2 separate regions of the Homo sapiens genome follow, and region 1 is linked to region 2. Evidence: fine-mapped expression QTL. Tissue or cell type: blood mononuclear cells. Region 2 holds a variant in brackets; the other region holds the start of a gene. Each region is shown on its reference strand, or each on the opposite one. Region 1 holds the start of STK38 (serine/threonine kinase 38). Region 2 has its middle 46 kb from the start of LINC02753.

Region 1 (5,346 bases), not on the chromosome of region 2:
GCTCTCCAGCCTGGGTGACCCCAGCCTGGGTGACCCCGTCTCAAAAAACAAACAAACAAACAAACAAACACGGGGATGTGACAACATCAAAATTATGCAGGTCAGATCTTTCTAATTTCCAACTCACAGTCTGGGATGGGTATAAGTGATTTCAGTTTTGGTGATAGGAAAGGGATTCAGATGCTCAAGTGGCCAAAAAGAATGACAAACGTCCATTATAGTTATTGGAATCTTGGTAAAATGTCACCTTTTGGGTTCCTGCAGAAAGAGCAGCATAATTTGGCTGGGCTGTTTTGAGGAAAACTTTAGTGCTTATTTGAGTTGTGGTACAGATAAATTAATATAGGAGGAAAGGGCCGGGTGCGGTGGCTCACGCCTGTAATCCCAGCACTTTGGGAGGCGGAGGTGGGCAGATCACGAGGTCAAGAGATAGACAGCATCCTGGCCAACATGGTGAAACCCCATCTCTAGTAAAAATACAAAAAAAAAAGGCCGGGCGCGGTGGCTCACGCCGGTAATCCCAGCACTTTGGGAGGCCGAGGCGGGCAGATCACAAAGTCAGGAGATCGAGACCATCCTGGCTAACATGGTGAAACCCCGTCTCTACTAAAAATACAAAAAATTAGCCGGGCTTGGTGGCGGGCGCCTGTAGTCCCAGCTACTCGGGAGGCTGAGGCAGGAGAATGGTGTGAACCCGGGAGGCGGAGCGTGCAGTGAGCAGAGATCGCGCCACTGCACTTCAGCCTGGGCAACAGAGCAAGACTCCGTCTCAAAAAAAAAAAAGAAGAAGGAGAAGGAGAAGGAGAAGGAGAAGAAGAAGAAGAAGAAGAAGAAGAAGAAGAAGAAGAAGAAGAAGAAGAGGAAGAAGAAGAAGAAGAAAAGATTAGCTGGGCATGGTGGCACGTGCCTGTAGTCCTGTAGTCCCAGCTACTAAGGAGGCTGAGGCAGGAGAATCACTTGAGCCTGGGAGGTGGAGGTTGCAGTGAGCCGAGATCGTGCCACTACACTCCAGCCTAGTGATAGAGCGACACTCCGTCTCAAAACAAAACAAAAACAACCCCCCTCCCCCCACCAAAAAAAACATATATATAAGAGAGAAGAGAGAGTGAAATTCCTCTTCTGAAACTGGGAAAGTTCCAGGAGGAAGATAAGGTTTGAGCTGGGCTTTGGAAGGAGGAAAGAGAAGAGGAGAAAGAACATTGGATTTGCAGACAGAAAATGGGGTTCCCCTCTTGGCTACTTGGCTTACTAGCCGTGGGAATTCAGACAAGTCACTTAGCTTCTCTAAGTATCAATTACTTCATCTGCAAAACCTCGTGTGTCACTGCCAAAGTGAGGACCAAGTGAGATTAAATAAGTGAAAGTTGTTTGTAAACTGTAAAGCATTATGCAGACATCTTGGACTATTATTAAAAGCTTAAGAATGGGTAGGACTTTGACAACAGGCATTTGGGGAGAAGGGCCTCTGGGCAGAGAGAATGAAAGGCGAAGTGATTGATTGATATGTATGTAGTGACTGATTGAGACAGGGTCTCCCTCCGTTGCCCAGGCTGGGGTGCAGTGTCATGATCATGGCTCATAGCAGCCCTGAACTCCTGGACTCAATCAATCCTCCTGCTTCAGCCTCCACAGTAGGTGGGACCACAGGCACTTGCCACCATGCTGGCCAATTACAAAAATTTTTTTAGAGGTGGATTCTCCTTATGTTGCCCAGACTGGTCTCAAACTCCTAGGCTCAAGCTATCCTCCCACCTGGACCTCCCAAAGTGCTGGAATTACAGGCAGGAGCCACCGCGCCTGGCGAGAAGTGATTTTTGTTAAGAGGCTAGACAAAAGGAAACTGGGCTTTGAAGATGAAATGAATGAATAACTCGCAGCACATGCTTCCTTCTCTCCCTAGATGGCCCCTTTGCAGGCAGTCAGGGACCATGTCTCGTTCATCTTAGTTTCCAGGAGCTTGACACTTTGTAGTTGAGGGCTTTGTGCTCCATTCTCAAGAAACGACAAGTGCCCAAAGGCTATTAAACTTGGGACCTCTTTACCCCCAAAAGTAGTACAGAATAAGAGTTGGGTGGCCTTGAAAAGCACCTTCTTCTGTCCACACTGGGTCGCCCGCTGGGTAACCTCCCAAACCTATGAGAGCTCACCTTATCCCAGGTAAGGTCCTTACTTTAAGGAAGAGGAGGGGGGCCAAGGGCTCCAGCAGACCTGTTCTACACGGGGTAGGGGGGTGGGTGGGAACTATACAGGTGACAACATTTCATAGAACTACACACACACTCACACACACGCACATGACTGCATACCCAACAGGTTAAATCCGAGTGTGGTCTGTAATGAAGTTAATTGTATTGGTTTAGTTAATTGTATTGGTTTAGTTAATTGTATTGTGCGAATGTCAATTTCCTGGCTTTGAGAATGTTGTATCTTAAGAAAAATGTTGAGGTAAGCTGGGTGGGTGATGGTATAGGGAACCTGTATGTATTAATTTTGCAACTTCTTGTGAGTCCATAATTATTTCGAAGTAAAAAGTAAAACAAAAGAAAACAATGGAACTTCCCCCTCAGCCCAGCCTACTTCGAGACCGCCTCACACTCACACATCTGGCCTCACCCAGGTCCAGCCAGCCCTAGGCAGGGGGTGAAGGGAGGGGCAGGGCGGGGCCACGCAAGCGCAGTTCCGCAATCCCGGCCGCTCCGGGAAGTCGCGCATGCGTAGTCTCGGCCCCGGGCTGCCGCGCCAGCCCGTCTCCGCGGCGGGGGACCGGGCTGCCTTGGCCCCTCAGCGCTCGCGTCTTTTCCGGCAGTTGGAACGCTTCCTGTTGTCCTCACCCGTAACCGCCTGTTGCCCCCTGTCTCAGAGTCCCTCACGCGTCCCCTCCCGTCTTTGGCTCGTTGGCTGCCGCCGCCGGGGCTTCGCCAGCCTTCAAGTCGAGACTACTGGCCGAAGGGGCGTCTGCGGCTCTCCGCCGTCCCCAGCCCTGCCTCTCCCTGGGCTCTGGTGAGTTGCTTGCTGCCGCCGTCTTCACTCCATCCCGGGGTTTTTCCTTTATCTCCTCCTTCCCCAACCTCCGACTCCTTCTTGGGCTTTCTCCTGCTCGCCGGCGCCCTCTTTCAAGCCCTAACCTCTCAGCCTCTTGGCCTCTCTCCGCCCCTCTCCTTAACCCCCTTCTTCCCCCGTCTCCAGATGCCCCTTGTTGGCCCTCTCCACATTTTTCCAGTCCCAGCCTTTCCACCCCATCCTTTATCTTTCTCCTTTTGCAGTTGGAGCGGGAGCCAGGCTTTCCTTTCCATGTTGCCACCTTTGTCTGCTCCCTGCCACCAGTCAGTCCCTCAGGGATCTCGGTCATCACCGGTTTTTATCTCCTTTTCCTTCTTCTGGGGTCTGTGAACTGTGGTCTGAGGCAGAGATGTCGAAAGCCCCCCTTGGGGTGTGGTATCTTTGAGTCGGCTCCTTTCTCCGTTAGTCTTAGGATACTGGGCTTCAGATAAGCTTCAAATCACAGGAAAAGGCAGGGAAAATTCTTAAGAAGAGAGTGGAAAAGCAACAGCCAGAGGAAAAAGTCGGTAAGGGCTTAGAGGAAAGTCTGTGTCAGAAAGCGGGCAGAACGGCCGGCAGAGAGACCAGATCTCTCAGTTCATTCTGAAACGACTAAAAGACTCGGAGAGAAACTTGTTCTGTTTGAAATGCACCGAGGAGGGTTGGAGTGAAGTAGACCCTGAGTGTCTCCACCCTTTGAGCTCACCCTGCCTCTGAATTAGCCAGGCAATATATTTGGTTTCCCTAAACATAAAACAACCACCACCTCGATAACAGGCTCTCCTCCCCACCCTAAACGTTAGATACCAGCTTCCTCCTAAGAGGAGAGAACGCTATAGCAAACCATTTCATGTCCCAGCCCTATCCCCCATCACACATAAACTCCTAGGAATGGACATCAAAAATGAGTATATTTCCTAGTTAATCTTTCTTAAGGTGCTAAGTGCATAGCACTGTGCATGAAATGGGGGAAGAATATTAAAACAAGTATAAGACATGGTGCTTGCTTTCTAGTGTAGGTAGAGATTACAGTTTAGTAGGATTTACAGTTCAGTGGGAGAGATTAGACATGCGACTTAAGCAATAATCTTAGCTCCAATGTTGAATCGTCCAAATGAAAGATAATGGATTGTCAGTCGCAAAGAAATAAAGTCCATATTGTTGAGAGAGGGTTGTTTATAGTGATCACAGAGTACCATTGTAAAGTCAGTCAGTTAGCCAGGCATAACCATATAGATTGAATCACATAATGGTTTTCATTTGACTTCCTTTTGAGTTTGCAGGCCTTACACCTGACTTTTATGAGGATCAGTTCCTTTTGTTAATTTTTTAAAACTTTGAAGAATTCCTCAGCCACCTATTATTTCCTAATTCTTCAGAGTTGAAGAATGAAACAAATGGGGCAAAGGCCTCCAATGGCTTCTAGGTCAGGGCAGGAAGGCTTGAATTGTGGAAAGCCTGATGGATAGTCCTGTCTTAAGAAAAGTTGGTTGACCCAGTAAATCTATGAATTGCTATAGGGCAATATTAATTACATCTTTTGATTAAAGGATATTAGAATTAGGCTAAATTTTTTATATTACAATAGAGGAAGTGGAGGAGGGTTTAAAGAAAGGTCAAAGGGAAGGAGAGTGCAGTCTTTATCATTATATTAGAAACTCTAAAAGTTGAAAAACACTCTGCTTAAGAATTTGTTGGTCTAATATTTGAGCATCTTTGAGTTCATTTAATGTCCTTTTGATCTTTTTAAAAGTTTAGGTAGTAATGCAAGCCAGCTACTTAAATTAGTCAAAGCATTTTTGATATATCCATCAGTGTAAATGTAGTCTTTATTCTTTTTTTTTTTTTTTTTTTTTTTTTTCCAGACGGAGTCTCACTCACCCAGGCTAGAGTGCAGTGGTGTGATCTTGGCTCACTGCAACCTGTGCCTCCAGGGTTCAAGCGATTCTCCTGCCTCAGCCTCCCAAGTAGCTGGGATTACAGGTGCCCACCACCACACCCGGCTAATTTTTTTTGTATTTTTAGTAGAGACAGGCTTTCACCATGTTGGCCAAGCTAGTCTCCAACTCCTGACTTCAGGTGATCCACCTGCCTCAGCCTCCCAAAGTTCTGGGATTACAGGCATGAGCCACCGTGTCCGGCCATCTTTATTCTTTAGCTTTGTTGACAACTAAAAATCATTAACTTACTCAACTGCCTGTTATATGGAAGGCACTGTTTGCCTTAGGGTTAAATACTAGCAGATTGTTGTGTTGTGTTTGTTGTTGTTGTTGTTGTTTTTAAGACAGAGTCTTGCTCTGTCCCAGG
Region 2 (5,374 bases):
GGGACAATGGGAACCACGTCCTCAGTTTATTTAAAAATACACTTTATTTTCCATTCTGTTTCTGTTTAATTTCTTCTGATAGAGCTAAAAAAAAAAAAGAAACAACAACAACAAAAAGCACTCTCCTTATTCTAAAAACTGAAGTTGGTATATAGCTTTACAAAGAAAAAGAAGGGGTGGGAGTGAAAAGTATAGGTCACGACAGCCCCCTGCAACCACCACGCTCCCTCGCATGCACGAGGCCTAACCAACGTTCGTCAAGTCAGTGAGCACGTTGGCATTTGGAGTTTAGGATGAAACAGAGCTTTAGTCTTAAGCGGGATGACAATGTTTGGCATATTAGGAAGTTCTATCATTTTTCTTTCTCTTTTTGCTGATCAATATTTTTTCTCCACTAGATAATTCCATGGGGACAGGAGGATTATGGGCATGCGTTTGGGAGCGTAGAAGATGGGGGTTCGAATCCCTCCTCCCCCTTGGCAGCTGAGTGAGTTTGGATATGAGTCATTCTTCCTTGCAGAAGAAATATGAATTCCCACAGCGAGTCCACGTGCTCACTTATGGCCTGTCTGTAAAGGACGCACCCAGCCCGACGCCCGCAGCGAAGCACCTCTCGGTAAGTAGCAGTTACGACCGCGAACGATGACTACGAATGAGAGGCTGAATGGTCACTGGGCCTGTTTTTCTAAAAAGGTTAGCTCTTTGTTTGTTTTGAATAGTCCAGCCTTTTGATGCTTGGAGAATGGGAATGCGTTTCGGGCTTGTTTCTGGGTTTAGTTCTCTGCTGAGACACCTCTGGGAGGCTTCCTCTAAGTCTGCCCCCTGGGTCTAAACTGGCACCCACACCCAGCACTCTGTCCCCCTCTGGGGAACCCATGTCATCCCAGGCTGTCGAGATGGACTCTGTGGGATTGGGTTAGGCTGAAGCTTCACACCGCAGCAGCGAAGAGGGGTGTGGAGTGTGTTCTTGGGGTTGGTAGGGAGGTGGGGACAAATACCCGTCTGGTGACCCTTGGCCGGACCCACTGAGCTGGGAAGGAAGAGGGCCTTTCCAGCTGTCTGAGGGAGGTGCTGCTTTTCCTCCTCCTGCCAAGGCTGGAGAGAGGCTCAAGGAGCCCCAGGGGCTGGGGGAGGGTGGACCAGTCTGACTCTTTCTTCAAAGGCATCTGGCAAGAGGGTGGCATAAGTGTCCTGTGCAGTGGAGTGCGGCTGTCCTGAGTGAGAACTGACCCCACCACCAGCAGAGATGATGAGGGTGGGTGGTGAGGATGGAAGAAGGGTGTGGGGGATTTCCTGTGGATAGGAAGTGGGCTGTTGGGCAGGAACTGGCAGGAGTGAGGGGTCCCAAGCTTTCGCTATCAGACACATGTGCTCATGGGGTCCAATTTGGATGTTTTCATTACCCCATGGACTAAACAATCCACAAGAGTACCCTCAAATGAGTCAGCTTTAAACATCTGCCCCAGCTGGGGGGATAGAAGCCCACCAGATCACCTAGCGCCCGCCCACCAAGCCTGACCTCCCTGCCCTGCTGGCCTCTCCCCAACCTTGGAGGGTCCGGGGGAAGCCTAGAGATTGGGGAGGGGAGAGGGAAGAGAAGCAGAAGCAGAGAGACCCAGAGCCAGGGGCCCTCGGCCCCCTTCCCACTCCGAGGCCTCAGCCTGGGGCTGGCTGGGCCGGTGAAGCCAGGAAGATGACGGTTTTCAGTGAAGACGTGCGTGGGACTGGACATTTCAGTGATCCACATGAGACCATGTTTTTGTGATTAAAAGTGGCTGGGAAAGCTTTCATTATGAGACGACCAGGAAGTCATGAGGCCTGCCCTAGAATTACCCAAGGGGCTGAGAAGAGCCAGCCCCAGACAGTGGTGGGTGGGTAAACTGGCCCTTGGAAAGAAAACACATGAAAGCTGACTTAGAGTGTTTGCCAATTGCGGAGGTGTAAACCTTCCCATCATGGCCCATTTTAAGCTCCCAGGGTGATGTCACTGAATGCATACTTGGGAAGATACAATTGGCTCGGGTGAGCTGAGTCCTGGTGAGCCCGTGTGAATTGGGTGAGC[C/T]GGCTCCTGCACACCCAGAGGGCAGGTCTGAAGGGGCACTGGGGGAAAACCTGGACCATTTCCTGCGGCACCCTCTCGAGTCCTGTTCCTTAATGTAACGGTTTCCTTGCTTTCTTTCCCTTTAGAACATCCCTTTCCTCCTCACATTTTATGTTTGCATGCGTGTGTGCATGTGTGTGTGCGTGCGTGTGTGTGCATGTGCATGGCATGTGTGTAGCGTGGGTTGTGAGTCCATAGACGGGGGAGTGAATGTGTGTGTGTGTGTGTGTGGGGGGGTTCTTCTTTCCCTCCCCTGCATCCCAAGGTGCAGGAGAACAGCACACTATTTTGATCACTGCTAAACCCCTTCCACAGAGGCCTGCTTAGGTCTGGCTCAGAACAGGCTCTCAACATTTGTTGAACGAATGAATAAATGAATGAATGGGGCACCTCCTCCAAGAAGCCCTCCCTGGCACCCAGGTGAGGACAGGCCCCCCTCCGCCACATGGCTGCACAATGCCATGGACTTTGCGTACTTATTGCCGCAGGATTTTCTCCCTTCCATGGACTCTAACTGTGTGTGAACGGCTGGGAGGAAGCTCCTCTGCAGCTGAGACTGAGGCTGCCTATTTTTGGCCATGTCCCCGGTACTGAGCTCCATGCCCAGCACTTAGCAGGTCCTCAGTAAATATTCCCACCAGATGAACAGATGCATAATGAATGTGTGGTCTCTTGCTGGCACAGACTCAGGGGATGGGCTTCAGCCTGAGGCCCAGGTTTGTTCTTCAGTCTTTCCGTTGCCTTGGAGTATCTGTCCGATGGGCTACATCCTGCTGCAGCAACAGTCATGCCCTGGTCCTCAGAACTTCCAAAAACACTTTATTTTCTGCTTGTGCTTCCAATGTCCAAGCCAGGTTGGGAGGGGGTTCTGCTCAGTGTAGTCTGGAAGGGTCTGGGCAGGTGGTGCAGCTACGGTCCCAAACACTGTCAGGCACAGAGAGTGCAGTGGAGTCTAGAAGCAGCGGAGAACTGCTCCAGCTCAGAAGCGAGCCATGTCACCTCCACTCACGGCTTGAGAGCTAGGACCAGCTCACAGCCCACCTGCCCACAAAGGGCCAGGAAGCACCATCCATCCATGATGCTGGAAGGGTCTTGAAATTCTTTATTTTTTTTTCATAGAGACAAGGTCTCATTCTGTTGCCCAAGCTGGAGTGCAGTGGTGTGATCACAGCTCACTGCAGCCTCGACCTCCTGGACTCAAGAGATCCTTCCACCTCAGCCTCCTGAGTAGCTGGGACTGCAGGTGTGTGCCCCCATGCACAGCTAAATTTAAAATTTTTTTTGTAGATATGGGGTCTTGCTCTGTTGCCCAGACTGATCTCTTACTCCTGGGCTCAAGAGACCCTCCTACCTCAGCCTCCCAAAGTGCTGGAATTATAGGCATGAGCCACCATGCCTGGCCTCTTCATAAGTTTTGAGCAAAGCCTGCATTTTTGTTTTGGACTGGGCCCCACAAACTATGTAACTGGTTCTGATGGGATGGATGGTTGGGGAAGCTGATCTTTCTTGGAGGGGATTGAGGAAAACTCTCAGAGACCATCAGGGAAAGGGGGCTGGAGTTGCAGGCAGGGGGTAGCTAGAACCTGCCCATGAGCCACTGAGGATAGGCATATGGGTTTGTTTGTGTAAAAGGCTTCATTAAAAATGGGAAAATAGGCCAGGTACTGTGGCTCATGCCTGTAATTCCAGAGCTTTGGGTGGCTGAGGTGGGAGGATTGCTTGAGCCCAGGGAGTTCAAGACCAGCCTGGACAATATAGTGAGACCCTGTCTCCACACAAAAATAATTTAAAAATTAGCTGGGTGTGGTGGTGCACACCCGTAATCCCAGCTACTCGGAAGGCTGAGGTGGGAGGCTCCCTTGAGCTTGGGAGTCAAGGCTGCAGTGAGACATGACCATGCCACTGTACTCCAGCCTGGGTGACAGAGTAAGACAAAAAAGAAAGAAAGAAAGGAAGGAAGGAGGGAGGGAGGGAGGGAAGTAAAGGAGGAAGGGAGGGAGGGAAGGAGGGAAGGAAGGAAGGAAGGAATGAAGGAAGGAAGGAAGGAAGAAAACTGTTGCCCAGGCTGGTCTTGAACTCCTGGCCTTAAGTGAAAAAAATAAAAATGAAAATCAAAATGGGAAACACGCTCTGGGCTGAAAAAGAATTTCATTTGATCCCCAAAGAGTTTCCTTTATGATTCATTGTGTAGACTTTTTGCAGTTCCGTTGGGGTAGGGGAAAAAGAAACCACAAAAACTGTAAGTTCACAAGAAAAGCATTATTAGGGCGTCTGGCCTTTGTTCGGACCGCTAAGCCTCATCCTCCTCCGGATGGGGAGAGAAGACACACCTTGGCCCGCGTGGGATTTTGTTCATTCATCAAACAAGTATTTGGCTGAGCCCTGCTCTGTGCCAGGCATCTTTCTAAGGAAGTGGGCAGTGAGCCCTGCAGACAGGAATCCTTGCCCCCGGCAGCCTGGATTCTAGAGGGGAAGAAAGACCGGGAAAAGAAAGAAAGTAAACTAAGTAGAATCTCTAGTACGAAGCACAGTGACACTTGGTAGAAGAGTTAAGCAGGGGCAGGATGTCTGAGGGACAGAGGGCTGCAGTGTGAGACAAGCAGCTGGGAAATGGCCTGGTTTAGTCACAGATCTTGGTAGAAGCCCTGTATCGATAGCAGATTCCCTATCTCCTTTGCCCACAATGTCTAGAGTGCAGCCAGATTAAGGGTGAGCCCCACAGCCCTACTTTGGGGCCTGGCTTGAGCCGTGACCCTCTGCAACTCTTTTGCAGACCCTGAGGTCCCTGGCGGGATTGTGCAGGAAGACAAATGAGGCTGCCACTGAAATGCATGCCCCGCGCTCCCAGGAGCTCCCAAGCCTGACGGTGGCAGAGCGGAGCCCCTACAGCGTCCTAGTTTTAGCTCTCTCTGTGGAATTCCCCATCCGCAGCATCCCAGGCTGGCCACTGTCCTGTGACCACAATCACATGACCCCAGAGGGGCTGAGGAATGGTGCTTGGACCACCTCATCTTCTCTTCACTTCCAGATCCAGGTTCAACAGCATAGGTAAGCCGCCACCATATCCGATTGCTGGTTTTCACTCCCATCACGCATTCTCAAATTCCATTACTTTTGCCAAAATGCACATAGAAATTGCAAGGACGTCAGGCCTGGCACGGTGGCTTATGCCTGTAATCCCAGCACTCTGGGAGGCTGAGGTGGGTGGACCATGAGGTCAGCAGTTTGAGACCAGCCTGGCCAACATAGTGAAACCCTGTCTCTACTAAAAAT

Evidence for each region. PIP is the estimated chance that this variant, and not a neighbour inherited with it, causes the effect.
Region 1: it holds the start of STK38, and the variant in region 2 is fine-mapped to the expression of STK38 in blood mononuclear cells (TOPMed, PIP above 0.99).

Annotation. Positions count from the first base shown.
Region 1 is chr6:36,544,844-36,550,189 of GRCh38, reverse strand. It overlaps STK38 (serine/threonine kinase 38), which reads left to right and starts at 2,711. Exons shown (of 14, transcript NM_007271.4): 1 at 2,711-3,000. RefSeq lists a silencer at 2,566-2,905 and an enhancer at 2,653-3,176.
Region 2 is chr11:70,016,202-70,021,575 of GRCh38, reverse strand. It overlaps a transcript of ANO1 not described here. Among named protein-coding and RNA genes, the nearest start is that of LINC02753, 46 kb to the left of the region's middle. The variant C/T (reference allele first, on the strand shown) is at 2,063.